2 separate regions of the Homo sapiens genome follow, and region 2 is linked to region 1. The links come from fine-mapping of genetic effects on gene expression. Tissue or cell type: whole blood. Region 1 holds a variant in brackets; the other region holds the start of a gene. All regions are shown on one strand. Distances are from middle to middle. Region 1 overlaps SDC2 (syndecan 2). Region 2 holds the start of SDC2 (syndecan 2).

What was found. PIP is the estimated chance that this variant, and not a neighbour inherited with it, causes the effect.
Region 2: it holds the start of SDC2, and the variant in region 1 is fine-mapped to the expression of SDC2 in whole blood (INTERVAL, PIP above 0.99).

The regions. Positions count from the first base shown.
Region 1 is chr8:96,564,531-96,580,520 of GRCh38, reverse strand. All of the region lies in intron 1 of SDC2 (syndecan 2), which reads right to left. Among named protein-coding and RNA genes, the nearest start is that of CPQ, 73 kb to the left of the region's middle. RefSeq lists an enhancer at 61-566. The variant T/C (reference allele first, on the strand shown) is at 9,603.
Region 2 is chr8:96,487,196-96,503,185 of GRCh38, reverse strand. It overlaps SDC2 (syndecan 2), which reads right to left and starts at 9,373. Exons shown (of 5, transcript NM_002998.4): 1 at 8,855-9,373. The coding sequence starts at 8,914.

The sequences.
Region 1 (15,990 bases):
TATAAGATGAGTCTGTAGTCATGATGCTCACATGTAAGATGCCAAATGAAAACATGTCCACCCCTCAGTGGCAACAAGCAACAGCTGAGGATATGGAGGCTTGGGAGCTATCGGTTGCATTATCCCTTTGACTGGACATACCTGGCTTTGGCAAATGCTCTGGAACAAAGACATCCTCTGACTCTCCCTTCCTGCTGCTTAACCTTACACTCTGCCTGTAGAAAAATGACACGCTTCTTGCCCCTCCTGCTTTGGAGGCTAAAGAATGCGGCTGAATGATTGCAGCTGCCACGGTAACCTCTTTGGCATGCATGCCAGCAATGCCTCACCTAAGAGCCTTTCCCCTGCCTCGCTGCCCTGGCCCACCGGTGATGACCACAATCCGTTCAAGTGGTCACATTGCAGCGCAGCCCCCATGGTAACCCATTTAGAGCTGTTAAAGCTCATACCAAAGAATGATGTTTTTAATACAGATTGTTCTTTTTAAATCCTTTACAAAAGCAGCTATAATCAATCGTGCTGGGGGGGCTCTGTAAAAAGCTGCCATTCGGAAAGCCCTAATATTGATTCTTTTCCCTTTCACGGCTTTTAAGAAAACAATCCCATGCTAAGAAACTATAATCAATTTTTCTAGACTTTGCTAACATGAAACAGTATCTAAATTAAAATGTTATATTCAAAAATTACAGAAAAATTGTAGCAGATAAAAGAAAGCCATACGTTATCCTGCCTTTCATGTAAGAGACAACATGTTTGTTTAAAACAAATGCCAGTTGAACAAATTCAATAATTGTTAAATACTGATTAAAACTCTGCAACTCTTATAAGAGTTCTTTAGCAGATGACAATAGCTTAAAGATTGAGGAAAACTCTGTCTTCATTTGAGATCTGGCATTTCCAATTTTTAATTTGCAAGATAATATACTATTTTCTCTGTGCCTATTCTTAGAGAAAAGTATCAATTCTAAGCCTGTGTTTATAGACAGTCATGGTTCCAAGTGGTCACATCCTGACTGAACTTCCAAATACCAGAATATTTTAAGTCTTTTCACAGGAATTATGGTAGATATATTATTCTGTCAAGTTTGCCTTTTCACGCTAGGCCTCTTAGAAACTCAAGCATTTCAAAAGGCACAAAGTCAATATTTAAAAAGCTACAATGCACAGACAAAGCAATTTGGCATTTTCATTTAAAACTTATATTAAAAACCCTCACTAGCATCAACAGCCAATTTCCAGATTAGACATTAAAGGAAAGCACAACATAATCTAGTCTGTTATCTGTTTAGAAGAAAAAAAATTAAGACTTTATTAAAATGCCATACATAAAACGAATACAGAATTGAAATCTAAGTAGACTGACAGCCCATAATGCTTTATTGTCAGCGTGGCACCTACCACGTGAATGAAATTAGATCTGATCAAATCCGAAGTGCTGGCAAAGAAACAAAACACAAAAAAACTTAACTGCTATTTGCTTTGCTCCCAAATAAGAGCAATTGCAGTTACAAGGGACTGAGCTACAATTCCTGTGGCAAGTGTCTGATACGCATTCAGGTTTCACATTCCTGGTATCCAACAACCGCAGGAGTTTACTGAGGAAATGGGTGTACAATTTCCAAATTTATTAGTTGGGAAGTTTAATTCCCTTTCCACACCCACCCCATCATCCCCTCAAATTAGAGAAGGCCCCTGCTTTTTCTTTTCTTTCTTTCTTTATTTTTTCAACACCAAACTAAATAAGCAAGAGCTGAGAGTTCTGTAAAACTCCTTAACACTAGCTGATCAAGGGCCTAAACCATTGTCAAGCCATGCCGCCTGGGGCTGTCACACAGGGGGCATTTCACAGCTTCACTGGCCTGGCAGCCTTTTTATCCCCAAAGTCATCTTAAGCAACTGTTCTTCAGCAAACAGACCTCTGAGCTTCATCTCTTCCATTGTAAAATTGTGGCACAAAAGAGCTAAGCATTAAAGAGAAACCAGAATCAGCCTGGTCAACTAATTTCAATCCCATCCTTCTCTCTGAATGCTTTTATTTGCATTAGGGCTGTCTAATAAAATCTGTGATGATGGAAATGTTCTACATCTGCACTGTCCGAAATAACAGCAAATAGCCACATATGGCTATTGAGTCGCTGATATGTGGCTAGTACAACCAAGGTACTGAATTTTTCATCTTATTTACTTTTCAATCAATTTAAGTTCAAATAGACACATGTGGCTATTTTTCCAGACTTTTCTAGTGGCTACCATACTGGACAGTGCAGCTCTAAAGAGAATTTAAGAAACTGCTGTTGGAAGCCTGGACACATCAAAGCCACCTACCTTTGCTGGGCTAAGCCACTTAAACATTAACTGTACATTAACAGAAGTCAGTGCCTAACAACATAATTGCCTTTTCCATCACAACTCTCCCTTGGCACTACATATCTGGCAGAAAAATTAAGCAGTCCATCTAACTAGGTCATTTAATGACTATTTATCAAACAACTGCTATGTGCTGAAATGTCCTATCATTTGTGTAAAACAGTAAGCTTCATGCATGGATAGACAAACTAGAGTACAGCCACACAATGGAATATTATTGGCGATAAAAAGATATGAGCTATCAAGCCATCAAAAAGACATGAAGGAACTTAAAAGGCACATCGCTAAGTGAAAGGAGCCAATCTGAAGAGGCTCCATACTGTATGATTCCAAATACACAACATGTTGGAAAGGCATAACTACAGAGACAATACAAAGATGAGCAGTTGCCAGGGGTTCAGGGGAAGAGGGGGTGGGCAAATAGGTGGAGCACAGGGTATTTTTAGGGCAGTGAAATTATTCTGTATGATAATATAATAGTAGATACACGACATTATGCATTTGTCAAAACTCATGTAAGTGTATAATACAAGGTGTAAACCTTAATGTAAACTATGGACTACAGCTAGTAATAATGTATCAATGTTGGTTCATTAATCCCAATAAATGTGCCACACTAATACAAGATATGTTAGTATACAGTAAGAGGTGAAATGGGGGAATGCATGGGGGGTATATGGAACACAATGTTCTATCTGCTCAATTATTTGATAAATCTAAGACTCTACCGAAAAAATAGTCTATTCATGATCAAAAAGACAAATACCTGGAGAACTCCTGAGGCCTGTCCATATATTCTGCCCTGACCAACCATCCCTTCTACAGTGAAACCAGGTTTTAGATGAATCACACAAGAGATGGTTCTTGTTTGTTAATGATGTATGTACCTAGCTGCCTCATCTCTCTGGTATCAGACTCAATTAGCTTCAGCAAATAAACGACACATTCCTGGACTTCTGGAAGTTATAAGTAGCCCATTTACAGTTGTAATGGGTATTATACATTCATTCTCATTCATTCATTCTTGCCTACACTGTTCCATCAAGCAAGAAAGCAAGATGCCAGCAACAGATATGGAAAGTTCAGTCTTCTCTAGGAAAATAGCTCATTTGTGTACAAGTATTAAATAATGAGTTGCACCACCGTTCCATCCACCTAGCCAGCACAATCACTGGGATTTCTCTGATGTATTAATAAACTGCAGAGGATTAAAAGTCTACTACATCTCAATACATTCTTGGGACAACTGAGAAATGTAAATATGGGTTGAATATTAGAAATGTATTCACCATTAACTTTCTTAGGTGAGATTGTGTTTTCTCCTTTTTCCCAGGGGATAAATGCTGAATCCTCAGGGGTCAAGTATCCTGATCACTGAAATTTACTGTCAATGGTACAACCAAACAACAAAAAAAAGCTGTATATAAAGAGAATAGGCCGGGCGCGGTGGCTCACGCCTGTAATCCCAACACTTTGGGAGGCCGAGGCGGGCGGATCACGAGGTCAGGAGATCGAGACCATCCCGGCTAAAACGGTGAAACCCCGTCTCTACTAAAAATACAAAAAATTAGCCGGGCGTAGTGGCGGGCGCCTGTAGTCCCAGCTACTTGGGAGGCTGAGGCAGGAGAATGGCATGAATCCGGGAGGCGGAGCTTGCAGTGAGCCGAGGTCCCGCCACTGCACTCCAGCCTGGGCGACAGAGCGAGACTCCGTCTCAAAAAAAAAAAAAAAAAAAAAGAGAATAATAAAGCAAATCTGGTAAAAAAAAACAAAACAAAACAAAAACAAACTACCAATTATTGAACTTATGTGGAGAATATTGTCCTATGCTTTCAAGTTCTCTGTGTATCTGCAAATTCATAATTTAAAAGTTGGAAGGCAGTAGGGTAACTCCAGCTGAAAAAACTTCAGGTGACACCAGAGCTGGTATTAATCACTAATGGGACCAGAAAGTACCGCCTTCATACCAGGTACAAGAATGAGGTGAAATCTGCTAAAAATTATACTAGCCTGTAGTTAGCTGACTTAAATAAATTGGGCCCACAAAAGACTGCATGATGTATTTGTGTGTGGGGATCGGGGAGGGTGGTAACCACATAATATTCTAGGAGAAAAGACAGCTATGAACTTGACAGATAAGCTAGGGCCCTAAAGGGAAAAGGTTTCTTTGACAACGGTAAGGGGGAAGACAGAAAAGCAGGTAAGAGAGGCATCTTTATAAGGGCAGAAAACAAATCCAGTCACAGTAAGGAACTTCCTTATCAGAGCTACTTGCAAACTCTTTGGTGCACTTTCATTGGGAAAACAAAAAATCTGACATGCAGAACAGAAATCATTTTTCTATGTGTGTGGTTTTAATGGAATTCACGTATTCAGATAGCTAAAGAAACAAAATTAGAGGTAAACATTTCAGGCTGTGAATGGCTTAGATATTACCCCCAGGAAACAAAACCTTGCCTCCTTGAACAAGTGAGTGGGGGGAAGTGATTCAACAGTTATGTCAACAGAACAGAACTCAGAACTTGGCTCCTACTGCCATCCTCACCAACCCCTTAATTTAATTAAAGAAAGAAATTGTTCGTGGCATGAATACATAAATTATTCATGTATTGTATATTAATATATTAAAAGGATGACTTGAAAATTCAAACTGTACACTTATGATCTGTGTACTTTTCTGATTGTGTTATACTTCAGTGAAAAGTTGACTAAAACAAACATAAAGAGAGTAACCTGAATCTCAGAAACTCTCCCCGCCACCACCCCACCCTACCCCACCCTACCCCCACCACCCCGCAGGTTTGCAATTACAGGTATTTACAAGACACCTACCAGGTGGATCTCACAATTCTTTCAGGTTTTTTCATTCGTTACCTGTGTATCTGAGCACTGAAGTCAAAGAGATGCCAGTGCTCACTCAGGAAACATATTTAGAAGGCTCTGCATCTCTACAGTTTTCATGAAGGAGAAAGGCTTAGATTTCTGGTTGTCTAGAACAGGGGTTCCCAACCCCCAGGCCACAGACCAATACCGATCCGTGGCCTGTTAGGAACCAGGCTGCACAGCAGAGGTGAGCCGCCAGTGAGCATTACCACCTGAGCTCCGCCTCCTGTCAGATCAGTGGCGGCATTAGATTCTCATAGGAGCACGAACCCTATTGTGAACTGCACATGTGAGGGATCTAGGTTGCACGCTCCTTGTGAGAATCTAATGATAAATGTACTGCGCTTGAATCATCCCGAAACCATCCCCCACCCCTGCCCTCGGTCAGTGGAAAAACTGTCTTTCACAAAGCCAGTCCCTAGTGCCAAGCAGGTTGGGGACCACTGGTCTAGAACCTACAGGTAACGCAATACATTTTCCATAGTTCTTCCATTTTTCCAAAGACATAAAACATAAAATAAAGATAGGAGGCATTAAATGTCTTTTTCACAGAACAACAGTAAGACAAGCCTAGCACTTTAACACCTTCAGTAGAAAGCAGTCAAATGACTGTGAACAGGTGTAATTCCTACCACAGAGAACAAGGTCCTGCAGACCACACAGATAGCAGGCCTGGCTGTTATTTCAGCTAATGGAGATTTTGTACCTGGTAACCACAGATAACTGATCTTGCCTGGTTGTTGCTTGGTGGGGAAGGGCAGTTACTTCTGCAGAGAATATTTAGGAAGCAATTGTGGTTTAAATTCTAAATAGCCAAATGACAGCTCTAGATAAGTTTCTGATGAGACAGCTGCTGCTGGCATATATTTGAATTCAGATCAACCACAGGTAGGCTTTTTTGCTGCTGATAAAGCAGATGTTTTGGTGACTGTGATCTCACTTCTTTCTCTTCCCCTCAGATCCCAGGTGCACACTCCAGGTCTTCAGGTGGCTCTGCTGCCATCCCAGGGTTTCCCCATGAAGATCTAGTCTGTGTCCAGCCTTGCCAACCCCTTAGAAAGGCTAGAGACTTGCGAGACCCCCTAGGCTAAAGATGCTGGCTACTGTATCCACTTACACCAAGAGTTAATTCATTTATTCACTGAGCACCGTGCAGGGTGTGTGCACGGTGCTAAGATCCCAAAGCTGAAGGTGAGTTGGTGCTAGCTATGCAGAGGGGAGGGGGTGTGGAGGGGAGGGGGTGCAGAGGGCAGGGGGAGAATAGGGTCAAATGAGGCACACGGAATGCGGGCATTTAGGGCACCAAGACAGGATGAGAAAAGAGAGGAGTTTTAGTTCTGTGTGATAAAGGGTAGGGTGTGTGTTCGGGATAGGTGAAATAAGACTAAGAAGAGGGTCAGATTATAAAGAATCTTTGGTGAAAAACTAGGAGATTTATATTTCTTCTGTAAGCAAATGAGGGATGTTCAAGGAGAAGGTCAAAACTGTGTTTGGAAAGATCAGGCTGGATGTAGTGCAGATGACAGATTAGAGGGGCTTGACTGGAGGCAGTGTGATCCATCCAATTATGGCGGGAATTGTGTAAGAAGTGCCAAACCAGAAGGATTAGAAAGCCAGGGCAGAGTCAATGGTATTAAAGTAAGTAAAATCTACAGGTCTTGCCAACTTATTGAATGAAGGGTAAGTGAGAGGATATGATGATTTATTTCTTTAAATGACAATAGTCGCTGCTGTCCTCGTAGAGCAATTGTGTGTCAGGTGCTGTTATCACTTTACATGGATAAGACCTCAAAATCCTCCCAGCATCCAACGCCGCAGGTATTAGCCCCATTTTGCAACGGTGGAACCTGAGCCTTAGCAATCCCATGGTTTCCCCTTCATCACCCACACATGAAGTGTAAGCACAGCACCCAGGTTTCTAATTTGGGGTCCTGGCACTCTTGGAAACTTGCCAGAAGGTCAGGCAACATTGTTGTTGGGAGGTCTGCGAAGAGCATCCATCCTGAAGTCAGACACCTGGACTAAAACTTTGAGGTTGAGTTTTTCTGTCTATAAAATGAGACAATAATTGTGCCCATCTCCCAAATTTCACATGAAGATTAAAGAGAAAAAACGTGAAATAGTTCATGTAAACTGTAAACAACAAAACAAAAAACAAGAATACAAGTAATTATTTATATTTATGCAGATGCATCTGATCTTTCAGGCAGGCAAGGCCCCACATTAAGAAAGTGCTTATTCCTGTAGCTCAAGCCAGCTCTGGGGAGGTCACACAGTTTTCCTGGTCCGTGTCATAACTAAGCTGGTGGTCACAACAATCTGACCAATCCTGACATGAACAAAACAAAATAAACAAATAAAGCTGATTAGGACTGAAAAATAAATGAAGACTCTGCAGCTAAGTCTAAAGCTAACCCCACCTTCATATAAACCTACTGCAATAAGGAATTCCTTGGGGTAAGAAAGTATTCAACTAATGTAGTTAATGACTTATAGCAGTTGAAAATTGGACAGTAAATAAACAAAGATGACACCAACAGTGATCCTATAGAAATGGACCACGATATGTGCAGGGGTGGAAATCTAGAAATTGTGGGATGGTTTCTGGGCACAGATTTCTGGTTTGTGGTTCAGATATCAATAATTACATAACATGGGGCCTTTGTTGTTTTTTTTAACAAATTAGCTTACACAGCACCTAGGTTATGAGGAAATATCTAGCCATCCCAAGGGAGCACAAAGTACCCAGTCAACTTTTAAACTTGGGCCAGCCTGGAGAACCGAATGCAGGCACCTCTCTGCTTCATACCACCTGAGACACCACTAGAACCATTTGACTGGGGAGTTCAAATGTGGCACAGAACTCCTCCACAAAAGACCAGTGCACAGGCAGTGGGCATTACCACTTGCCAGACTCACTGGTCCTCAGCAGGTGGCCAGAGATGTTTCAAAGCCCAAAAAAACTTTCCATAAGATGAAAGATTTTAGGTATTAACCATCTTCTCCTTTAATATGAACAAACATTTTCCACCAGGGGTTCTGGAGTCAAAAACCACTAAGAAAACAATTCATTCTGCAGCACCTCCTGTAGGGTTGCCTCTCATTGTCCCAGACCCCCTGCTCCAGGAAAAGCAGTAGTAACACACAATGAGGCCACCAAGGTGGACTTGGGAAAAAAAACAGGGTGGCAGCAGCCTCCACGAGACTGCTTGAGCCAGCACTGATGGCCTTTAACAGAAGGATAAACAAACCCCAATTTACCTTCCTAACAACCCTTCCCTACTGAGAAAGCCAACCCTTCAATTTACTTGTCCTGAGCCAAGACCTTTCCAGAAAGAAAAGTCTACCTGTGCAATAATAATAAATGCTCCCAGTGACTTCACAGCGCCAGGATCCAAAGGCGCTAATGATACTATTATTGCTCCCTCTGGGTTCCAAAAGCCACCAAGCTGACAAAGACAAAGTTTATGAAATAGAAAATGTTCAAGGTACTGTCTTCAGGATTTTTTATTACTTGTGACAGTTTTAGTTTGTGAGCAGCTGGGTTTCCTTCCGTTTCAACACAAATTTGTTGTCAGGCAAAGTGGTATGTAAGCCAGCAAGAGGGGGTGCTGTCTTTAGGGTACCCACCAATTAGCAAATAATTAGAAAGCAAGGCAGTGCCTTCTCTGCTAGCCAAACAAGTACATCACTAGGGAAAGAATCAAACCCCAGAACCACAAACACAAGATTAGGCTGAATCATATAAATAGGTCAGAATACCAGCAATTTCGCATGGTTTAATCTGTATGGAAATTTGAGTTTTTTATTGCTTTGTTTCTATTTTCAAGTTTTATGCAGAGCAGTGGTATTCAAGCCCATAAGACCCCGGTGATCGGGGACCTGCCCCTTTCCATCCTAACTTCATCCCACCTCCCTAAGCATACACACTTTCCCCACTCCAGGGCCTTTGCAGCCGCTCTGCCTCTGCCTGAAATGCTTCCCTCAAGCCTTTTGTGTGGTCAGTTCCCTCTCATTTCATAGGACACAAATGTGACCCTCTCCAAAGAGGCCTTTCCTGACCATCTTACCCATTACTCTCTACCCAGCACACTCCAACAGAAGTATGACGCAAGCCACGTGTGCAATTTAAAATTTTCTAGTAGTCACATTTTTTAAAAGTGTGACACATATTTTTTGGCTTTTTAAAGTTGTAGTAAAATATACCTAAAATTTGCCATTTGAACTAGTTTCAAGTGTATAGTTCAGCGGCATTCAGTATCGTCACACCGTTGTGCAACCATTACCACATCCATCTCTAGACCTTTCATCATCCCAAACTGAAACTCTACCCATTAAACAGTAACTCCCTA[T/C]TCTCCCTTCCCCCGGTAACCACTGTTCTAATTTCTGCCTCCATGAACTTGACTATTCCAGTTACCTCATAAGTGCAATAAAAGTGTCCTTTTATGCCTAGCTTATTTCACTTAGCATTCATTTTAATAACATGCTCTATTTAACCCAACGTATGAACACTTAAAATATAATCAATGTAAAAATTATTGAGATATTTTATATATTTTTTTCATACTAAGTTTGAATTCCAGTGTGTACTTCACCCTTAGAGCATTTCTCAATTTTGACTGACCATGTTTCAAGTACTCAATGGACACATGCACCTCGTGGCTATCACAGTGGAATGCACAGGTCTCTTTCATTGGCTTGTTTTATTTTCTTCATTTGCCTTTCTCAGCCGAAATTATTTTTTTCTTTGTAAGTCTACATACTTCTCTATCTCCCCTTAGCAGAGTATGAGTTCCCCAAGGGCAGGACCTGTGTCTTTGGGTTTTTTGTTTTTTGTTTTTGCCTGCTCTAAGCCAAGCACATATTAAGTGTGATACAATCATATAAATATTTCTAGACAAATGTCTTTAAGGCAGATGCTTTTGAAAATGGAAGGATCTGTCTCCAAAATATCACTTTGATCCTGTACTATCTGGAACAAAAACATCACTGGAGACTACTAGTTATCGTTCCCTTTGTACAGGAAGACTAAGCAGAGCTTGGGATAGTCGCTGAAACCCTGGCACCAGACTTGCCTGGCTCTGCCACTTACCAGCTGCGGGATCTCTCTGCACCTCAGGCTCATCATCTATAAAATGGAGAGGATAGTGATAGTGCCTACCTCAAGCAGCTGCCAAAAGCATTAAATCAGTTAACATTTAAGGCACTTTCAACAATGCCTAGCACTTAGCATCCTGCGTGTTAGATCAACAAATCACACGAATATATTTTGCATTGCCATTTCAGAGGTGACTCTGGACTGCTTCAAGCGACTCCCCTTCCTGTAGTCCATCTACATACAATGTCAGGACTCCTTTCCCAGAGAGCACATGTGCTCACACCTCCGGGCCCCTTATAGCACTAACAGTCCCCACCGCCTCCAGGAGCCACTCTAAATTTCCCAGCAGTACAGGAGGAGCCAGAAGCAGGGAGCAAAGTGAACGACCTTTGAGAAGACACCCAACTTCCCATGCCTCAGGTTCTTCAACTAGAAAATGGATTAACAATGGTACCTACTTTATAGGTTACTGAAAAATTAAATGAGTTAATATATGCCACGTACCTTTACAGTGCCTAAAACATAGTAAGCACTCAATAAATATCATCTAGTATTATTACAAGGCTCTCCACAATTGGACTCCAACTTTTACAGCTTCATTTTAGTTCATTTAGCAAATATTTAAGTACCTACTATGTACTGGGGACTGTCTCTATAAGGCTCTTGCTCTTACAGGAGCTTAGAGTCAGGTAGGAGAGAGATAAGAGCTGTGGTAATCCAGGAGGTAGATACTCTGCTAAGTGTGGTGTACTGTACTCTACACTGGCCCAGTAAGAGAACCTAACCTAGAACTGGGGTGAAAGTCAGGGAAGGCATTTCATGGAGGAAAGGATATCTAGGCTGAGAGTATAAGAAAAAGGAAGAGGCTGAGAGTGGTGGCTCATGCCTGTAATCCCAACACTTTGGAAGGCCAAGGTGGAAGGATGGCTCGAGGCCGGGAGTTCAACACCAGCCTGAGCAACGTAGTGAGACCCTGTCTCTACAAAACATTTTAAAAATTATCCGGACGTGTTGGTGTGCACCTGCAGTCCTAGCTACTCGGGAGGCTGAGAGGAGGATCACTTGAGCCTAGGAGTTCAAGGCTGCAGTGAGCCATAATTGTGCCACTGTACTCTAGCCTGGGGAAAACAGCAAGACCTTGTTTCAAAAACAAACACAAAAACAAGGAGGAGGAAGCAGTGAGCATTCTACATTCTATCTTATCTACCATTCTTATCCAAGCAGCAGCCATGTGTAATTTCCCTTCCCTGACACCCAGTGACTTTTCCTTACTCTTCACACTGCTCACCTGCATTGCACTCTGGGTTACATCTGCCTATCCCAAATAGATGAACAGTTCCCCATTTACCTGTTTCCCTACCATGAAGCAATACATGTTTATTGAATGAATTCACTTTTCCCCTAGTTTCTCTTAGGACTAAAGACCCATACTTCTAAAATGGTGGCCTGAATTATGTCCTAGACAGGGCTGCACTAACCAGCTCTGGGTTCAGCACACCCATGCTCAATTTACAGTTATTTAATCAGTTCACAATCTCCAAACCTGCAGATACAAGAAAGGGTGGCACTGTTTCTGTGGTATTTATTTCTACCTATAAATCAAGAACTCCAACCAAGAGCTCCATTTCCAGGTTTTCACTTAGGCAAGTTTTTGGACCTCTTTGACCACATACATCGCTCCAACTACCATGCCTGTCTGGCAAATACAGACAGAGCTTTGGGGCTCCACCACCAGACACTAAAACAATCATGTAAGCAACTGACAGTCGATTGGTATGTCTGACAGGTTATGGTTATGTGTTAAAAGTACCTATGAAAAGCAGATTCATTCAAGCTGTTCCCCACTTTTGTTTAAACCAACTCTTTGGGTTGGCCAACAATCTTACTCATTACAGATAACATTTCATTTTCCACCCCCACAAGGTATATTCTTTCACCACAAGATGTGCCAACAGTAATTAAGAACTTCTGAGGAAGAGAGGAAAACCCGCAGGCTTTGCTGGAGAAAGAGGGTGTACTTAGCTTAACCCTCCTATAACTTTGTAACAGAAGGCAAAGAAAATTGAGGCAATTCTCCTTTAAGTTTACTGATGCTAAAACGCAAGAATTTGTTTTACTGCCATACACTAGGGTAAAGAGCCAGTAATTATGCCTCTATACAAAAGCATGGGAGAAAATACGGACCTTCTAGTGTGCAGCAGACCTGGGTTCAAATGACAGCAACACTTTGAAGGAGTTTCCTCTTCCAAAAAGTGAGGATAAAGCCATTGCATTCTACAGGAGTTATAATAACTGCCTGCACATTGTCTAAGAGTGCCTGGCACTGTGCTCAACGGAGGTGCTCAACGGAGGTGTTACTCCACTCCACCTCTCAGACTATGGGTGAATAATTAGGTGTTTATGATAAAAATAAGTTTAGCAAAAAAATATCTATGACAACGAAATTATTCTTATGATTCTTAATCAGATTAAAAATGGCAGAACAAGAGCAAAATAATGTCTTTTGCAGCAACTTGGATGGAACTGGGGGCCACTATTCTAATGAAGTAACTCAGAAATCAAAAACCAAATACCACATGTTCTTACTCTTAAGTGGGAGCTAAGCTACGGGTGTGCAAAGGCATACTGAATGGTAAGGTGGACACTGGAGACTCAGAGTGGGGAAGAGAAGAGGGTGAGGGATGAAAAACTACCTATTGGGTACAATGGACACTATTCAGGTGACAAATGCACTAAAATCCTAGACTTCGTCACACACGATTAATTCATATAACCAAAAACCATGTATCCCTAAAGCTATTGAAATTCAAAAAATTTTTAATGGCAAAACATGCCAAAATTAAGACTTCTATAAGATGCCACTTTCTGTTCAAATTGCAATTAAGAGGTATGAAATCTTCCCCTTTCGCTACCAGAATTCTTCAAGTCAGGCTTTAACTACATTTGAACAGAAACTGTTATTGGCATGAACGCTTACTAATAAACTATCACCTTGTAAACTTTAAAAAATAAAGATATAGGCCAGACGCAGTGGCTCACGCCTGTAATCCCAACACTTTGGGAAGCCGAGGCAGGTGGATCACTTGAGGTGAGGAGTTCCAGGCCAGCCTGGCCAACATGGCGAAACCCCATCTCTACTAAAAATACAAAAATTAGCCGGGCGTGGTGATTGCTGCCTGTAATCCCAGCTACCTGGGAGGCTGAGGAAAGAGAATCGCTTGAACTTGAGAGGCAAAGGTTGCAACGAGCCGAGATCATGCCAATGCACTCCAGCCTGGGCAACAGAGTGTGACTCTGTCTCAAAAATAAAATAAAAATAAAGATATACTTGAACATACATATACAAACACATAACCACACCCCCCTCCCTAAATATAGATGCTTACAATAAAACTAAAGCATGAAAACAGGGCACATGCTTCTCAAATTATAAGGTCAGAATGACTTAATTATAACAAAAAATTAATAATAATAAAATAAATATAAAAATAAAATAAAAAATTATTTAATAAAAATAATTTAATAAAATAGATCAATCTCAGAGAAACTACAATCTGCAATTTCCTTTGTTATGTATATATGCTTGCTAGTTGTATTTCACATAAAACTAATAAGTATGAGAGTTATGATAAGATCCTCTTTAGACATGAAAACACACCCAAACAAAATTTGTTATGATCCACATTTCGATAGTTATGAACTGAATGCCTGAAAACCCCTGCACAATATGCTTTATCATTCTAATGAATTCAAATGAATTAATGTTTGTTTCCAGAGCTATCATACCATTAATGGTTTTATAACTCCATAGCATTAGGACAAATCAAATGCTCTGAAATAGTCAAGAAATATTTAGAGGTCCTGAGAGAGTTTAAGTGTTTCAGTTCATGAATTCTCAAAGTCAACTACAATATTCTTACATAATATGCATTTTTAAATTAAAATTCTGCCTTTAAGAGAAACATCTAAGAAGCCCATGAGAAAGTCAGCCAACAAGTATAATAATCATGATAAACCACCAGAACTTTCAGTTTGCTGCTTTACATCTATGACAGGAAGAACACTATTCCAGTGAGTGCTCACTGTGCCCATGTGAGGAAGACCAGATGGTGGTCATCACCAACATTTTACAGATGGGAAAAGGACTTCATCTAAGGTCCTCCCCAAGATCACACAGCTGGTACGTGGTGTACAGGGCAGGAAAGAAGCAAGACTCAAGCCCAGGTCTTCTCGGTGGCATATTTTTCACTAACAATATGAATCTTCTGTGGGGTAACAAGGCAGCTATGTCAACTGGCTGCAGAACTCTGAATTCTACAACTTCCAGGTCTTTGATCACTCTACTGCCTATCCCTGAATCCTTCACCTCCCATCCCCAGGAGGAACGCCGTTACATTCAATCTCTTTATTGCAGTTATCTACCCAGCCTTTCCAATCAGATGGACTTTGCAGAGGGAAGGCAGTCTTTCCCAAACTATGTGTAATGCAGGTATGACTGGAGTCGGGGAAAACTGAGACACAGATATAAAGGCCACACATTCAGTACTATAGTTATTGAAGCAACTGTTGCTAGGGTCCCAGATTTTCAATTCTCTGTCTCCCAACACCACACTTCCTATTATGTCTCTATCCTAATACATATACATATAGATTTATTCTATCCAAAACCCTATTAAGTTAAAACTCAAACTAAATTCATTTCAACATGGAGGAAAAAAAATGAAGATGTACATGGATCCTGTAAGACTCTGAGATATCTTCTGAATCAAAGATTAAATCAGATTTAGGGGTTGGGTGCGGTGGCTCACGCCTGTAATCTCAGCACTTTGGGAGGCTGAGGCGGGCAGATCACGAGGTCAGGAGATCGAGACCATCCCGGCCAACATGGTGAAACCCTGTCTCTACTAAAATACAAACAAAATTAGCTGGGTGTGGTGGCGCACGCCTGTAGTCCCAGCTACTCGGGAGGCTGAGGCAGGGGAATTGCTTGAACCCGGGAGGCGGAGGTTGCAGTGAGCCGAGATCGTACACTGCACTCCAGCCTGGCGACAGAGCAACACTCCCCATCTCAACAAAAAAAAAAAAAAATCAAATTTAGGATGGTCTCAGTGATCAGTATGCTTACCACACTGTAATTTTCCTAAAAATTACTTTCCCTTCCTCAATGTACATTTTTTAAAGAATAAATATACCTAGGCAGAAAGGGATATCCCATTGCTAACTTATCAAAGTTTATGAAGCAAAGTGAAGAATGTACAGAGATTGACTAAAATTTAACAACAAACAATTAAAAGCTGGTATTCTAAACAATCACAAAGTTCAACTCCCAAAACGGTGGGCAGGGTGCTTTCCCAAAGCACTGGCACGGCAGACTTCATCACTTACCTATGGGATGTGATAACACGTGTAAGCTGAACTGTAGGAAAAAACCTGGAATCTTGAGGTATTTTCTTGGAAAGTTTTATTTCATGTCAGATATCAGAAGTCTACAGGTGTGTAAGGAAAACAAGAAAATACGCCCAAATAAAACGTATCATAGGTACATTCGCCAATCAGAAAGCACTCTGTACACTTTTACTTTAGAATCCTTCACAAAGGTCCATTAAATTAGAGACCCTTTACCTCTCTGTGTGAGGCTAATC
Region 2 (15,990 bases), 77 kb after region 1:
CTGGGAAAGATGAGCTTTTCACATCTTAACACGGATTTGTCCTGTCCCTGTAAGGAACCTTTCATCAGCCAGAAATAATAAATGGCATATTTTCTCACATCATCCACTTTTAGAGAAAAGCTGACTACAAACATATTCCCAATATCTCAGCGTAGAACTAGTCTACCCCAAGACAAGAAGAAAGCCCCTGTTATGAAAAAGTAGGCCTTAGCATGCATATGCTGAGCCACCCTCTGGGCTAGAGCTTATCAGATGAGCCCAACTAATGTGTGTGCCAAGCCCTTATTCTTCAGAGAAGCAGAAAGCCAGGAATTATAACTAGCATGTGACACAACGCATGGACATTCCCTTATGCTAAAAAGTCCCTACTTATTGTGTCTCACATAATCCTAAAAACTTATTTTAGGATATTCAGTTTTACAGATGAGAAAACTGAGCCCAGAAGGTTAAAAAACTTGCCCAAGGTTACATAATAAGTGTATCCAAACCCAGGCAACACTACCATAGTCTGCTCATTTAGATTCTTGCTTGTGGTCTGCACAGTACTCAGACCAGGCTCAAGTGCTCTAGAGAGGGACCAAACGGAAGGCACCAGTTAAAAGCCCCACTCTGGAAATGGAGATCCAGGCCAGAAACCATATGAGGAGACTAAAACACTTTATGAGATTTATAGTTTAAAAAGACCCCCAGTATATCAAGTCATGTAGTCTTCTATCTAGAATGAAAGTTATTTTTACCACGCAGCTGTTCTTTATGTTACACTGGCTTGTATCAGAAAATATATAAAAAAATACTAGTGATATGGTTTGGCTGTGTGTTCACCCAAATCTCACCTTGAACTGTAATAATCCCCATATTTCAAGGGCGGGGCCAGGTGGAGATAACTGAAACATGGGGGCGGTTTCCCCTATACTTTTCTTGTGGTAGTAAGTCTCACAAGATCTGGTGGTTTCATAAATGGGAGTTCCCCTGTACAAGCTCTCTTGCCTGCCACCATGTAGGACGTGCCTTTGCTTCTCCTTTGCCTTCCACCATGATTGTGAGGTCTCCCCAGCCATGTGGAACTGTGAGTCCATCAAACATCTTTCCTTTATAAATTACCTAGTCTTGGGTATGTCTTTATTAGCAGAGTGAGAACAGACTAATACAAATAGACATTAGATCACGAATACGCAGGACAATGTATACCACTCCTAGTAAACAATGAACACTCAGTTCAAGGTAACAGGTTACCATGAGCTATTAGAAATTACTTGCCTTTCTGTAAGGTGAATAAATTCCATGTTTCAATAATAAAATTAGAAGTATTTGACAGGGGATTAATAATTACTTATTAAGTTAATCTTCACATTTCTCCTACCACACCCTAAAGTGCAGAAAAAGTAAATATTAAGGAGAGAGAGTTTTTCTCGTTCAACTCCATCATTTTAGAGATGAGAAAACTGAGGTCTCACAGGGATTAAGACAGTTAATTACATGTGTATAAAACCTTGCTTTTGCCTTGACTTAAAATGTTGTATATTTAGTCTACTGTATTTATATTTAATAACAAATTACACATAAATACATACTTAACTCAGCTGGTTGCAGTGGCTCACGTCTGCAATCCCAGCACTTTGGGAGGCTGAGGCAGGCGGATCAGTTGAGGTCAAGAGTTCAAGACCAGCCTGGCCAACATGGTGAAATCCCGTCTCTACTAAAAATACAAAAAAAGAATAGCCAGGCGTGGTGGTGTGCACTGTAATCCCAGCTACTCGGGAGGTTGAGGCAGGAGATTCACTTGAACGGGGGGAGGAGGTTGCAGTGAGCCTCATTTATGCCACTGCACTCCAGCCTGGGCGACGGAGTGAGACTCTGTCTCAAAAAAAAAAAAAAAAAAAAAAAAAAAAAGAAATACGTATTTAACTTTTCCCTTAAAAAAAATTTTCCTTTAATAATTGCGTATCTTGTCCCGTGTGTCATTCTTATACCATGAGACTAAATTCTATTAATTGCACACACTCCTTAAACATCACGGTTACTTGTATTTAATATACCTGTGTAATCATAAAAAAAAACACCAAAATGCTTTGTAGAGAGCATACTTACTGAGTCTTTGTGACATTTTTCACAAAATAGACTGAATAGTAGAGAAAAAAACTGTGAAAACATGTCTTTAATAACATTTTTCCATTTTTCCAAGACTATGCATTGGCTATCACGCCACCAGCTGCATACTCATTGGCTTCACTCTGCTGATGTGAAATGCAAATGGAAAATCTCCAAAGATTTCAAGGCTTCTCTCTTCTCCCACTCCTACCAATTCTTTGAGATACTTGAGAAAAACAGACATTCACAATTCTATTTCAACAGTGTCCTCTCCCATTCAGAGGCATTCACCCCTCCATCCTTGTTGCTAAAGCTAATGCTGCCTAGAAACAGACTTATCAAAATGCAGTTGAGATTTTTAATAGTAAGACCTAAAGCCCAATGGCTAAAAGAAGAAATTTAATGCATTTCCACTCTTTTTTTTTTTTTTTTTTTTGAGATGGAGTCTCACTCTGTCGCCCAGGCTGCAGTGCCATGGCATGATCTCGGCTCATTGCAACCTCCGTCTCCTGTGTTCAAGCAATTCTCCTGCCTCAGCCTCCCAAGTAGCTGGGATTATAGGTGCCCATCACCACGCCCGGCTAATTTTTATATTTTTAGTAGAGACGGGGTTTCACCATGTTGGCCAGGCTGGTCTCGAATTCCTGACCTCAGGTGATTGGCCCACCTCGGCCTCCCAAAGTGCTGGGATTACAGGCATGAGATATCGCGCCAGGCCACATTTCCACACTTAAAAAATAAAAATAATCCCTTTTCTGCCCCCAGATCCCCAAAATATACTCACTACCCCTGCCACCTCATTCTAAATGACCAACGGCATACCAACGCATGATACAGACTAAATTCTAACTCTCTCCTTCCCATGTGCTGGAATCTCAGCACAGCCTCAGGGAAGAGGAGGAGGTGTGACTGTGCACAGCTGATGTGTCAAGACGTTACATCAATGTCTTCTTTATTCTTGACACCAACCCTGCAATGCTGATGACACTGAGTGCAGAGGCATCAAAACTGGACAACTAGCCCAGGTCCACTGGGGGCTGGTGTATTCAGTTGACCCTGAACCATAATGCCTTCAGTGGCCAGCGTGAAACTTCTTCAGGAGTGCCAACCAACCCCAAAATGTCCAGGCCCACGGGTATCTGCACTTCAGCATGCAGTGTCAACAGATGTTTACCCAGCTCAGCACTGCACAGGAGTAGGAGATTTGGAAACATGGTTTCTTCCTATAGCACTAACCTTGATGGGAGAGAAAATTCACCTATTTAGAATGTCAGAGAGGTAAGAACATCTGACATGGCTCCCTCATTTCATTCATTTCATTGCCAAAAAAAAAAAGGCCAAGAGAGGAAAGGAAGAAAAAAAAATGTCCTATCTTCCGTGCCTCAAGCACCATTCATATGCTCCCTTCATTTCATCTTCACAACAGTCATGTTATAAAGGCATTCTTAGGTCCAATTTACACACACACACTTTTTTAAGTGACTCAGAGCTTTAATATACTGTCCAAGTTCTGACACATTAAGTGGCAAGGTACCAGCATCTGAACCCAGACTTGTCCACCTCCCAAGCCCAAGCCCTTTGTATTCTAAGCCCAGCTACTGCTGAAAACTCTAGTAGTAACATAGAATAGCACATAATTAAGGGGTAATGCTGTGATCTAGACCAGCGATTCCCAAATTAGTCTGATTCATTAGAATCATCTCAGTCGCTTTATAAAAATACAGTTTCCCCCACACTCCCACCCCCATTCAGGTTTCTGATTGTGTAAGTCTGAGAGGAGGCCTGAAATCTGTATTTTCACATACTTTCAATGATTCTGATCATCAGTATGCCTTGCTATTTACAGAAGGATTAAAAACAACAGGGCTGGATCAGCCATGAAAAGGTATTTGGAGCTTGCATTTAATCAATAGCATTTAAAAGGAGAAACACTGAAAAAGTAGCAATGTCCAGGGAGTGTTCATGATAGTGATATCAATGGGCCAGGGCTGGGAGATGTGGTGGAAAGTGATCAAGGGGGTAACCAGAAAGGAAGGCTATTATGGGGCCGCTTATAAATCCAGCAGAGGCATACAGACTATATGCCATGATAACAAGGACACGGAGGTGTCTAGACCATGGGCAACATGATCAAAGTGGTGGAGGACAAACCAAACTGCATGCAAGTGTCTGGGCCAGGAATGGCAACTACAAGGCTACTGACATAGAAGCACAAGCTGGCATGCCCCCAAGGAAGAAAAAAAGAGGGAAAGCTCTTCATTTGAAATTTTCTGTCCCATCAAGATTAGTGCTGCAGGAAGAGACCAATGGCCAGGCATAGTGGCTCACGTCTATAATCCCAGCACTTTGGGTGGCCGAGGCGGTGGATCAGCTGAGGTCAGGAGTTGGAGACCAGCCTGGCCAACACGTTGAAACCCCATCCCTACTAAAAATACAAAATTTAGCCAGGTGCAGTGGCATGTGCCTGTAGTCCCAGCTACTCGGGAGGCTGAGGCAGGAGAATCGCTTGAACCTGGGAGGTGGTGGTTGCAGTGAGGTGGCTGCAGTGAGGTGGTGGTTGCAGAGTGCCATTGTACTCCAGCCTGGGTGACAGAGTGAGACTCCATCTCAAGAGGAAAAAAAAAAAAGATTAGCGCTGCAGGAAGGGACCACATTTCCAAACCCCGACTTCTTTGCAGTGCTGAGCTCAGGTCAGGAGCTGGGTAAACACCTGTTGGTGCTGCATCTTTAAGTGCAGGTTCCCATGGGCCAGGGCATTCTGGGGCCGGTTGGCACTCCTGAGGAAGTTCCACGCTGGCCACTGAAGGCATGAAAAAATGAACGGAAAGATCACTAGAATGCAAGCTCCAAGAAGGCAGGGGGATATCTGCCTGGTTTGCTCACTGCTTTACCTCAAGCACCTAGTAGGTATGAAATAAATATCTGCAGAATGAATGCACAGCTGGACTTAGAGGCAGACTGGACGTGGAAACCAACAAAGATGAATGAGTCCAGGGCTTCTTCAAGATTTAAATCCAAATGATTAGAATGAAAATGATAGTACTGTCACAGTTGACTAAAAAAGTTAAATAAGAGTAGATTGGTTTTAGCAAAGATTCTTCTTCATTACTTCTGGCTTTTCTCTAAGACTTTATTTTGGCCTCTAGTCCACGAAAAGAATTCAGTGGTTTGGAGATTCTGCAATGCACCCTTCTGCCTTGGGAAGAAGAAAAGGATGGGCAAAATCTTTTAGTTTGATTTTTGGCAATGGAAGAAGGACAATCTAGTGAGAATCTAAACCCAGATGGCATTCCTCACAGGACAACTGGATCCCCACCAGCAGGTATGCCAACAGCACAGTGGCTTGACTGGACTTGCTATAAACCTTAATGACAGGGCTGGTGGGGCTCTGTGTGACTGGGTCAGCTTCAGGGGCCTTGCCAACCTAAGGAGACTCCAAGCCACCTCTAGCTGGCCAGTCAGGTCTCTGGGGGCTTTTGGAGACTTGAAAACTAGTTCCACCCAGGGAACAAACCAGTTCACCTTTTGAAATCCTTTCCAAACTAATGATTATCCAAGGCGCCATTTAAGTGATCATATTACACAGGGTAGGCTACCCCTCGAAGGGTGGTTACCATCAAAACTAGACATATCAGGTCCTAAAAGCAGAAGCTGAAGGGCATGCTCAAATTGCTTCTCAGACATCCATTTTCTGCAAGCCTGATCTTTCAAGATCTTTCCTTCTTAAATGACATCCTCCTTCTGCTAATACCCAACTAAGAGAGAAAGAGCCCTTGTTTTTATAAAATTCCCTAGCAAAAGCAATTTGTTTCACTCATAAAACAGCCAAACTATATTTTCTAAAGAACTGCAAAGTTACATGATTTCGATTTTAGTTACCCTTCTAATGCAAACTTTCCAGAGCCTGCCTTTCATAATACACCGAGAGATAATGCATGGGCCCAAATGACTTGACAGTTTCTTTTAATTTACAGACATCTAAGAATGTTTATAAAATTCCTCTAGTTCAAAACACTTCCTTTTCTTAAACATATTTCCAGTTCAAATTATGTGTTTATAGCAGTCTGCAATATATTATTTCTAAAGATAAACAGTCATGTACAAAATGGACAGAAAACCAGCAGCATATCACTACTGCCACACTCAGTCAGATTTTCCCCTTGCCTGGTGCTCCGCAGCCAAAGTCCTAACCTGCCAGTGGAAAGTATGAATGGATCACTAGGAACAGGCTTTCCCAGCTGCCTCCAGGATCCATAAAGGAACAGCTACCAGTTCCTTTTCATAGGCAGTTTTGAGCCTTAGTTCCTGAGAACCTCTTTTTTACCCCCAGAGCTAAGTATAAAACTTAAGAATTCACTAACTGTAGGCAGTTTTCCTTTCTTCCTTTAAAGGGAGACTTTAAACCCAAATCACTACTTCTAAATCCCAGGAAACAGTTGCAGTTTTCAAATTAAAATGCAAAGTCCTGGAAATAATATTCTGTAATTGCTAATTTTTTTTTAAATTCAGTCTTTTGACTTCATTTATATTTTTGCTGCTATACATGAAACAAACGGAGACTGAAAAGTAATTTAAATGGACTGTTAGCCATTCTGGGCCTTGAAACAGCTTCTATTTAGAAAGACTGACTCACTGCCTAACAAAGATTCTCTGCTAGTCTCTAAGTTGACATTTTATAAATATCTAATCACCCTTTTTGGATGATTTTCCAATTACTGAAAACAGTGTCTATCACAATGAAGCAGTTCACTCGGAAAGCATCCAGTTCTGGTTCAAATTGAGAAATATTAGAACCCCAAAGATACACAGTTCAGGGGAAAGCTGTCACCGGGGAGGACAGGTATATAGTTCGGCCAAAAAACTTCCTTAAGGAGCACTGGTAGATTTATGCAAAAACCCAGAGGAGCAGAAGACAGAAACATTCTTTCTCCAGAATCCCAAAACAGTAACATTTCCTAGCAAATCCATGAATAAGACTCAGCAAAAAAAAAGGGCCTCCTTAACCATGTGCAGTTTTTTAGGCAGGCTCTTGAAATTTATTAGATGAAGTCCCTTTGCCCTGTTTTGCAACAAGAGGAGCAACAACGCTCATCTGAAATAAACAAGAGAACTGCTGCCTTTTGGTGTACAAAGAGCCAAAGTTCATCCTAACTGGCTGGGAGATAACTAATACCAACGGATTAAACCATCATTTGCCAAAGGGAAACACTGATAAGGCTGGGAGTTCTATTTTACAACCTGAGCACCCAAAATACTCATGTAGTCTGTACAGTTTCCAATTCTACATGCTCTCCAACCACAAAGAACGTATGGGGATCTGCTAGCACACACAGAGGCTCCCACACTGATTAAAAATGTCCATCTGCCGCTCGATGCCAAAGAGGTTTCCCAGTCCTAAATTAGCCTCAGCACAAAAAAGGGGGGGAGGGAGACTCAAACTCATAAAACTACCTAAAAGACCTTAAGATGATATAATTTGTCTTTGAAAAGACCATTCAATTAATTAGAAATTGACACGTTATTAAATGGCAAAGGGAGAGGACGTGGGGAACCAGAAGGGCCAGAAACAGCCGCACTCCCTGAGACCCCAGAGGGCACTGAGGCTGCAGACGAAATCTGGGGTGCTCAAGCTTCCACCTGGCCCGACAGAGCTCCTGGCGCCCAGGTGGAGGCAGCTGCGGACGAGAGGAGGCCAAGGAGGCAGTTCCCTTTAGAGGGCGCTCATTGGGCGACGTGGGGAAACAAGCTCCAGCCCCCGAAGCGCGACCAAAAGGAGAAATCAAGTTCCCACCGCCAGGGCGGGGGAGGGAAGCTGGGTGCCGGCAGGCGCTCCGCCGGAGACGAGACTCCTCCCGGCCCCAGAAGCGCCCCGCCAGGGCCAGAGAGGGCGAGCGTGGCGGGAGGGAAGCCTCTGTCCCCCAGCGGCCAGGCGACCCGAAGCCGAGCGCCGTGTCACACGTACCCCGCCTCGCCCTGCTTGCGGCACTCCCGTGTAACTCCTATGAAAATGTCCTCCCGTCCCTGACGCCCCGCGGTGCAACCTCCACCCCTCAACGAGGAGGGGGTCGCCGCAGGACTGGGAATCCAGTGGCCGGCGTCCCAGCATTTTCGGACGCGTTCCGTGCCTCCCCCAGTATCCCCTTGAGGGATCGCCTACTGCGATTCCACGTAGTGTCGGTTACCTCGCCCTAGCCGCAGGGAGCATCAAACAAAAGAACTTTTGCAAACTTTTCTCTCTGGACACTCGCGGGTCTCTTAAATCTGGCCCCCATCTCCCCAGAACTTGCATGCAGTCAAACAGGAAAGCTGGCGCGGGGGGGATGGTGTGCGGAGGAAGGGACCCCGAAGTTTCCAGGTCATCCCTGGTCTCGAGGAGCGCGCGGAGTGGAGCCGTTCCCTCGCGGGCCCGACCCAGGCTCCCCCCTCCTGCCACCCTTTCCCCTCCGTCCTTCCCAGACCACGCAGCAAGACCCGCCGAGGGCGAAGAAGTTGGGAGTGACTTCAGGGGCCTCTGCGGCTAGACCAAACCGCAATTCTCGGTGCCCCCATTCCCGCGGACCGCGGGGTAACGCCAGCGAGCAGCGCTTTTCTGAGGAAGGGAAGAGGGGGAAAGGGTGACCGGACGAGCGCATTTGTCCCAGCGGATCTCCGGTGTATACTTGGGGACTGGGGGTTCCCCAGGTGGCGCTCCCCTATTCCCTGCGGGCTCCTCTCGTAGCTTCAAACACCCTAAACGGCGCGCGCATCCTCCGCCTGGCCCACTCACCGACTCCGCCGACACGCAGGCCACCAAGCCCAAGGTGAGCAGGATCCACGCGCGCCGCATATTCCCCAGGGACCGGCTGCTCCCAGCCGCTGCTTGCAACCAGGGCAAAACGAAGCCTCCTGCCCAGCGCTCGGCGCAGCCCGCGCACACGAATCCGGAGCAGAGTACCGCAGCGATTGCGGCTCAGGCTCGGGGACTCGGGCTCGGGGCTCGGGGGCGCTCGCTTCCTCCTCCTGCGCCTGCTCCCGCCGCCCGCAGCTGCGCCCCGGGAACGCGGCGCCCTCTCACTTGTTGGTTTCTGCACTCCCGACACGGAGTTGGTGCTCCGGGAAGGCTGCTCTCTGAAGCTCTTCTTGCTCTGCTGTGGTTTTGCTCCTCCGCGGACTCCTTTCCCGTGCCGAGGTTCAGTTTCTGGTTTTAAGGAATAAATTCGCTGGCTTGAAAGGGAGCTACGGCAGAAGTTTAGGGGCAGAGCGGCGGGAGCGCGCGATCCGCGCGGCTGGAGCTCCGGGGGTATCTGGAGAGCAGCGCGTCCAAGCGGGGCCACTGGCTCCGCGGCTGCGCCCCTCCTCCTCCCGCGCCGCGCCTCCCTCCCCGGGTCCTCCTCCTTCTCCTCCTCTTCTTTTCCTCTGGCTCCCTCCCTCCTGAGCCTGCTTCTCCGGGCTCCCCTGGGCGACTGGGGAGAGGAGGCGGCAGTGTGACTCCCAGATAAACCCGGGAGAAATTCCTACAGGATTACACGCCGATTGGCAGCTCCGAGGACCAGTGGGCGCCGCGGCTCCGCGCTGTGGCTGCGCCGGCTCTGCTCACCGGCAAGCCAGGGCTCCTGCGTTTTCTCAGTCCTTTTCTTCCTTTCTCTCCCCACTTTTCCTCTCTCCTCTATGCTCTTTTCTTCCCCGTTGTCTTTTCTCTTTCCCTTCTTCACTTTCCCTTTTCTAGAGAACAATTAGTGAAGAAACGAGAGACGTATGTAGCTTTTCTGCCTTGAGAATTCGACCAGTAGAAAGAAACTGCTTTGTGAGTTGAGGGAAAAAAAAAGTGTAAGATGCTTTCAAGCAATGTGAAGTGTTCATAAATCGCCAGTTCATGAAAATTGCATTTTAAAAGAGAAGATAATTAATGTAATAAATATATAGTGAGAGTGTTTCCCATTCTCCCAAATCCTTCCGCACCCCCAAAAAAGGGACATGGAGGAAGGATCCTGTAAACCCAAAGTGCAACAGTTTGAAAGCTCCTAACTTCATTAAGGGCTTAAATACCATTTCTCCCTCACACACAGTTTATGCCACTAAGGCTTTTTATAGGCTCCATTTTAGCAGATAGGTGTTAACGTTTGGAAGCTACAAATAGGGTAATTTGATGAGAAGTTGGATAGAGACCCTGAATAATAACAGATTTAAGATAACTTCAAAGAAAAGAGGGATAAAGTAATTCTTAGTTTGAAGAAAATAATGAACATGTATTTCCTAAATGGAAGTAGCTGACATGAAATATTTTGTTACAATGTCTGTGGCATATTATAGAACATGGCAAATGCGTATTCCCTTCCAGTTTCTTTTTCTTACTGTCACAAATTTTACACACAAATCCCTTGCAGTTCGTGCCATCATTTTTCTCTCTGACTTATAGAGTAAATGAATTATGACGCCATTCTGCTCCTGGAATGCCCACTACAGGAAACCAGAGACTTTTCTGTCTGTTCACCATTGTATTCTCATTCCTGGTACATAAAGACACATGATAAATATTATCTTGAATAAATTTTGCTCTAAAGCTCAATTTATACCGTATAAGAGTTGTGAGCCTTTAAAATACACCAATGTAGATATATAGATATGAGGCCATGGTAATTTTTCAACTCAGTATTAGAATAAAATACAGTCATACCCTCAGTGAGAATTAAATGTCTTAGTAACCTATTACTGTAATAAATCTCAAAGAAAGAAATTTAACTGGAGAATTACAACTCAAACTTGGAGACACTTATTCCTTTGGTTTTGTGTGCCAGCTACCAAACCTACAAATGCTCATGAGCAAGTCTAAGGCATTGGCCAACAAAAAGGTAATATGGAGAAATAGAAGAGTAGGCAAAGGAGAAAGAAGAAAAAGAGCAATAGGCCAGAAGTTGTAACATCAGATGATGCTTCTGATTCCACAGACACTGTAGCTGGCATCTGTGCCAATGTGGGCTCCACTTAGCTTTTGAAAGAATGAACCACAGCCTTTTTTTTTTTTTTTTTTTTTTTTGAGACAGGGTCTCATTCTTGCCCAGGCTGGAGTGCAGTGGCCTGCACTGTAGCCTCTACCTCTCAGGCTCAAGCAGTCCTCCCACCTCAGCTTACCAAGTAGCTGGGACTACAGGCACAGGCCACCACACCAGCTAATTTTTGTGTTTTTTATAGAGACAGGGTTTTCCATTGTTGCCCAGGCTGGTCTCAAACTCTTGGGCTCAAGTGATCTGCCTGCCTCAGCCTCCCAAAGTCCTGGGATTAGACACGTGAGCCACCAGCCTAGTGCCCTTATTTTTAAGATGGAGTCTGTGGGTTGAAGAGGTTCATGAGATGGGGAGACTTCTTAAAAAGGCCTCCAAAGGAAAAGCAGCAATGCAAAATACATGCAAAGAGCCATAAAATACCAGCTCTGTCCTCATAAGAGGCCTCGTCTACTCGCCAGCCTTCAGGCAAGGCCACACCTCCATTGTCCCCAACAGTTAAGTATTCATCAAATAAATTGGAATTCCAGTAAAACAGGAAGTGCACTCCACTGATTTGCTGGTTCTCACAGTTATTGCTGTTTACTGGGGCACCCATGTAACAAGAAGCGTGGTGAATGCTCTCTGATTCAGCTTGGGCAGACAGTGATAAAAAATGAATAAGTGGATACACGTGTTGAAGGGATATTATCTGTTTGCTGCCCTGAAGGCACACCCCAAGGCTCTTGGTGTTGATGAGATGCTCAGTGACTTGTTTCTTTAAAGATGATAAATACTCCATTGAGAGTATATATAATAAGGGAATTGGTACCATTTTGAGTGACACAATATTAAGGAGATGAAAACAAATATTCAAGATCTTGTGTTCAGATTTATTAACAGCTGTGGCAAGAAGGATAATCTGACAGTATAAAAAGCACTTACACAAGAGCTGGCTACAAAGAGGTCACCCATGCTGAGTGGGGATGGGGACAGAAGTCAGGGGAGGTCCGCTGGTATTAGTCAGGATTTGTCTAAATTCGCAAACGATGTAGGCCTGTTTGTGTGTTTTGCTAATTGGAAATGTTTAAAAAACTGATGGGGACTAAAATTTGGCAGAATTTTGTGTAGTATATCTAATTCACTAAGTATAGCTTGTGACTAGAACCAAAGGTTCTTTGCAAATATACTTCAAGTCCTCAGGTTTTGAGGGCTATGCTTTGAGGGGCACAGCTTAACCAATCACTTCCCAAATAGCTTCATTGATTGCTAAAAGAATAATTACCACACTTCAAGAGTCTCAGGAGAAAATATTAAAAATAAACAACATAGAGATTAAGATGCAAACATGTAAAAACAAATAAAAAATAAAGAGAACCAGACAAGTGAAAAAATAGAAATGAAAGCTACTAAAGACAGTTTTTAACCTAAACTGACACATCGGACTCTGTCACTACGGTAACAAATGATACCACATTACAACCGTGGATAAACAGGTGTTCTGTCCTGAGGTGAGTTGTCAGAGTAGGGGATAGCGGAAAAAAAAGATGCCATTCTGTTGTTCTCGGTTGTTCTTCCACTTGGCACCCCCTGGACTGTTACCAGGAGTCCAGGCTAGAAATCAATTTGGTAGGATTGGCTCTTATGAAATTCACTTGAAAGATGATAGAAGCTGAGAGGAATAGGATATCCATCCAGCCAACCATTAATGAGCCATCGCTAATACTGGCAAGTGAGCTGAGGCCATGACCAAAATCTACAGGCAATCCAAAAAAATCTATTTTCAGGCCTGGCGCGGTGGCTCACACCTGTAATCCTAGCACTTTGGGAGGCCGAGGCAGGCAGATTGCCTGAGCTCAGAAGTTCAAGACCAGCCTGGGCAACACGGTGAAACCCCGTCTTTACTAAGAACAACACAACAAAAATTAGCCAGGTGTGATGGCGGGCACCTGTAGTCGCAGCTACTTGGGAGGCTGAGGCAGGAGAATTGCTTGAACCCGGGAGGTAGAAGTTGCAGTGAGCCGAGATCATGCCACCGTACTCCAGCCTGGGCAACAGAGCGAGACTCTGTCTCCAAAAAAAAAAAAAAAAAGTCTATTTTCAGCCTCAAACTTTCCACTGTTCTCTTTATTCACCTCCATCAACCCCTTCCCAGAGAAGTTGGCTGATTTGAGTTTCATAAAATGATATGGTGCTAATGTTGAACAAAATTGTTACAGTTTTGGATAGGAGGACACAGGAAAATCAAGGAAGTGTATAATACATAAAATAAGACAGGAGATAAAACAGTTACTTCTGTTTTTCTTTTTCTTTTTTTTCTTTTTTTCTTTTTTTAGAGACGAGGGCTCACTATATTGCCCAGGCTGGCATCGAACTCCTAGACTCAAGTGATCCTCCCCCTTGGCCTCCGAAGGGTCTGAGATTACAGGTGTGAGCCATCACACTTGGCCCTTCATGTCAGTTTTTCTAACAGTGTGGTATGGTTCTTTAAAGGCTGGCAAAATTTGACATTCAGTCAACAAATATGTATGGATCACCTGCTGCAACTCAGGTACTCACTGGGTAGGCACATGAATTTTCTTGAACCTTGTTAGAGTTAATACATTTTTAAACTAAGAGTTGTTCTCAAGTCATGAATCTGTGACTAAAGTACATGATGAATTTCATTCTAAAATCAGATAAAGTTTAAAGAAAACATTATTTATGGACTAAAATACATATCCAAAGAGCCATATTTGAATGTTATAGATTTGGATGTATGAATCCAGGAAGGTACCACAGAGGTATCTTCAAGTTATTTTGCATTGCATTTGTATATATCCAGTTGAACAGGAAAGTCTAACCTTGATTAATTTTATGTAAAATGGTACTATTTTTTAAATTGACAAATAAAAATTGTATATATTTATGGTGTACAGCATGCTCTTTAAAAATATGTAGCCAGGTGCAGCAGTGGCACACACACCTGTAGTCCCAGCTACTCGGGTGGCTGAGGTAAGAGGGTCACTTGAGCCTAGGAGTTCAAGGTTACAGTGAGCTATGATCGAACCACTGCACTCCAGCCAGGGTGACAGAGCAAGACCCTGTCTATTAAATAATTAATTAATTAATAATGTGTACATTGGGGAATGATTAAATCAATCTGATTAACATATGCATTGCCTCACAAACAAATTTTTTGTGGTAAGAGCACTTAAAATCTTTTTTCTCAGCAGTTTTTGAGGATACAATATATTGTTAGCTATAGTCACTATGATATACAACAGATCTCTTGAACTTACCATGAATTCAACTTTTTAAGATTACACATAAGTGGAATCGTGGTATTTGCCATTCTATACCTGGCTTAGCATAATGTCCTCCAGGTTCACCTATGTCATCACAAATGACAGAATTTCTTTTTTTTTTTCTTTTTTTGAGACAGGGTCTGGCTATGTTGCCCAGGCTGAACTCCAACTTCTGGGCTCAAGCAATCCTTCCACGTAGCTGGAAGAGCCCCGCTGCCTTCTTTTATAAGGCTAAATGGTATTCCATTGTGTATATGCACCACACATTTTCTTCATCTGTTGGTGGACAGTCCTACTCTTTTTTTTCTTTTTCTTTTTCTTTTTAGAAAGGGGGTCTTACTCTGTGGCCCAGGCTGGAGTGCAGTAGTACGATCATAACTCACTGCAGCCTCAAACTCCTGGATACAAGTGATCCTCCCTCCTCAGCCTCCCAAGTAGCTGGGACTACAGGTACTTGCCACCGTGACCAGCTGGGACTACTCTTATTACTACTCTCTGCAGGTGATTACTTTAATGGTAACTAGCTCTAACCTCATTGACTGTTCTTAGAAATCCATCCTCTCCAAGGCCCTGGAAAGGGGCCTACATGTTACATATCATCATTTAGATGATTCCACACCTCCTTGATCACAATTATGTAGACCAGGGCTGGAAGCAGGGGGAGGCAATTTATTAGTGGGCCAGTGGCCAATCAGATTCACCTTTCAGATTATTTGAGCCAAGGAACTCAGAGTCTAACTAAATTGTACATTGTTGACCTGGGAGTAATCCAGAATTGCTAAGGGGTCCTTGTGTGGTGAGAGAGAAAAGGTTGATGTAAAATGGAAAGAATGAAGCAGATGAACAGAGAGAAGCAACAACAGAGGATATATGGCTCCAGAATAATGTAGTTTTCCGGATTTTGGTTTTTTTTTTTTTTCCAGTCCCTTTTCTAGCCTGTTTTGAAACCCAAATAAACTTTCTTCCTTTAGGTTATACAAGATACTATGGTATCCTTAAGGTAAATTCCTCATTTTTCTTTAGCTAAAGAGCTAAATTTACTAGTAATTAATTTATTACTACTTCTTGGTAAACAAATGAAGCCAGCCCAAGACAGAGATGAAAATGAAGCAAAGAGCTTTGACTACCTTAGCTTCACTCTGGATAGAATGGAAATCTTGCCATTTAGTGTTTTATGAGCCATGTATAGTTAAGAACAGTTTTAGTGAAGATAAACTACTACTAACATTATTTAGATTTTCAGGAGAAAACACAAACTTTTAAAGAAAAATTTTACTTATGAATTACCTTGGGGGAAGTGTTTTCCATGTAGAATTTGGTATCTTTAAAACTCTAAAAGCAGAGTAGAATACGTAGATTCTTTGCTGAATTAAATAGTATTAGCACTGGGAACACCTACAAGTTAATGCCAGGAATTGCCTCACTGAACACTTTTCTAAAAGATCTAGAGGTCAAGGCACACAAATGTCCAGGTGTGAAAATGTTACTAAATTCTTTCAGCTAGTGAAATGAGAAACAGGTAGGATAGCCACGCCTGGCTGAGTTGTTAAGTAACCCAATACATTAAGGATACCTAACAGAGGCTCTTACACCGGCTGTTAGGGTAGGCTGTGCCCTGTAGTGGTTAAAACCTCAGCCTTTGGAAATATACAGACTGG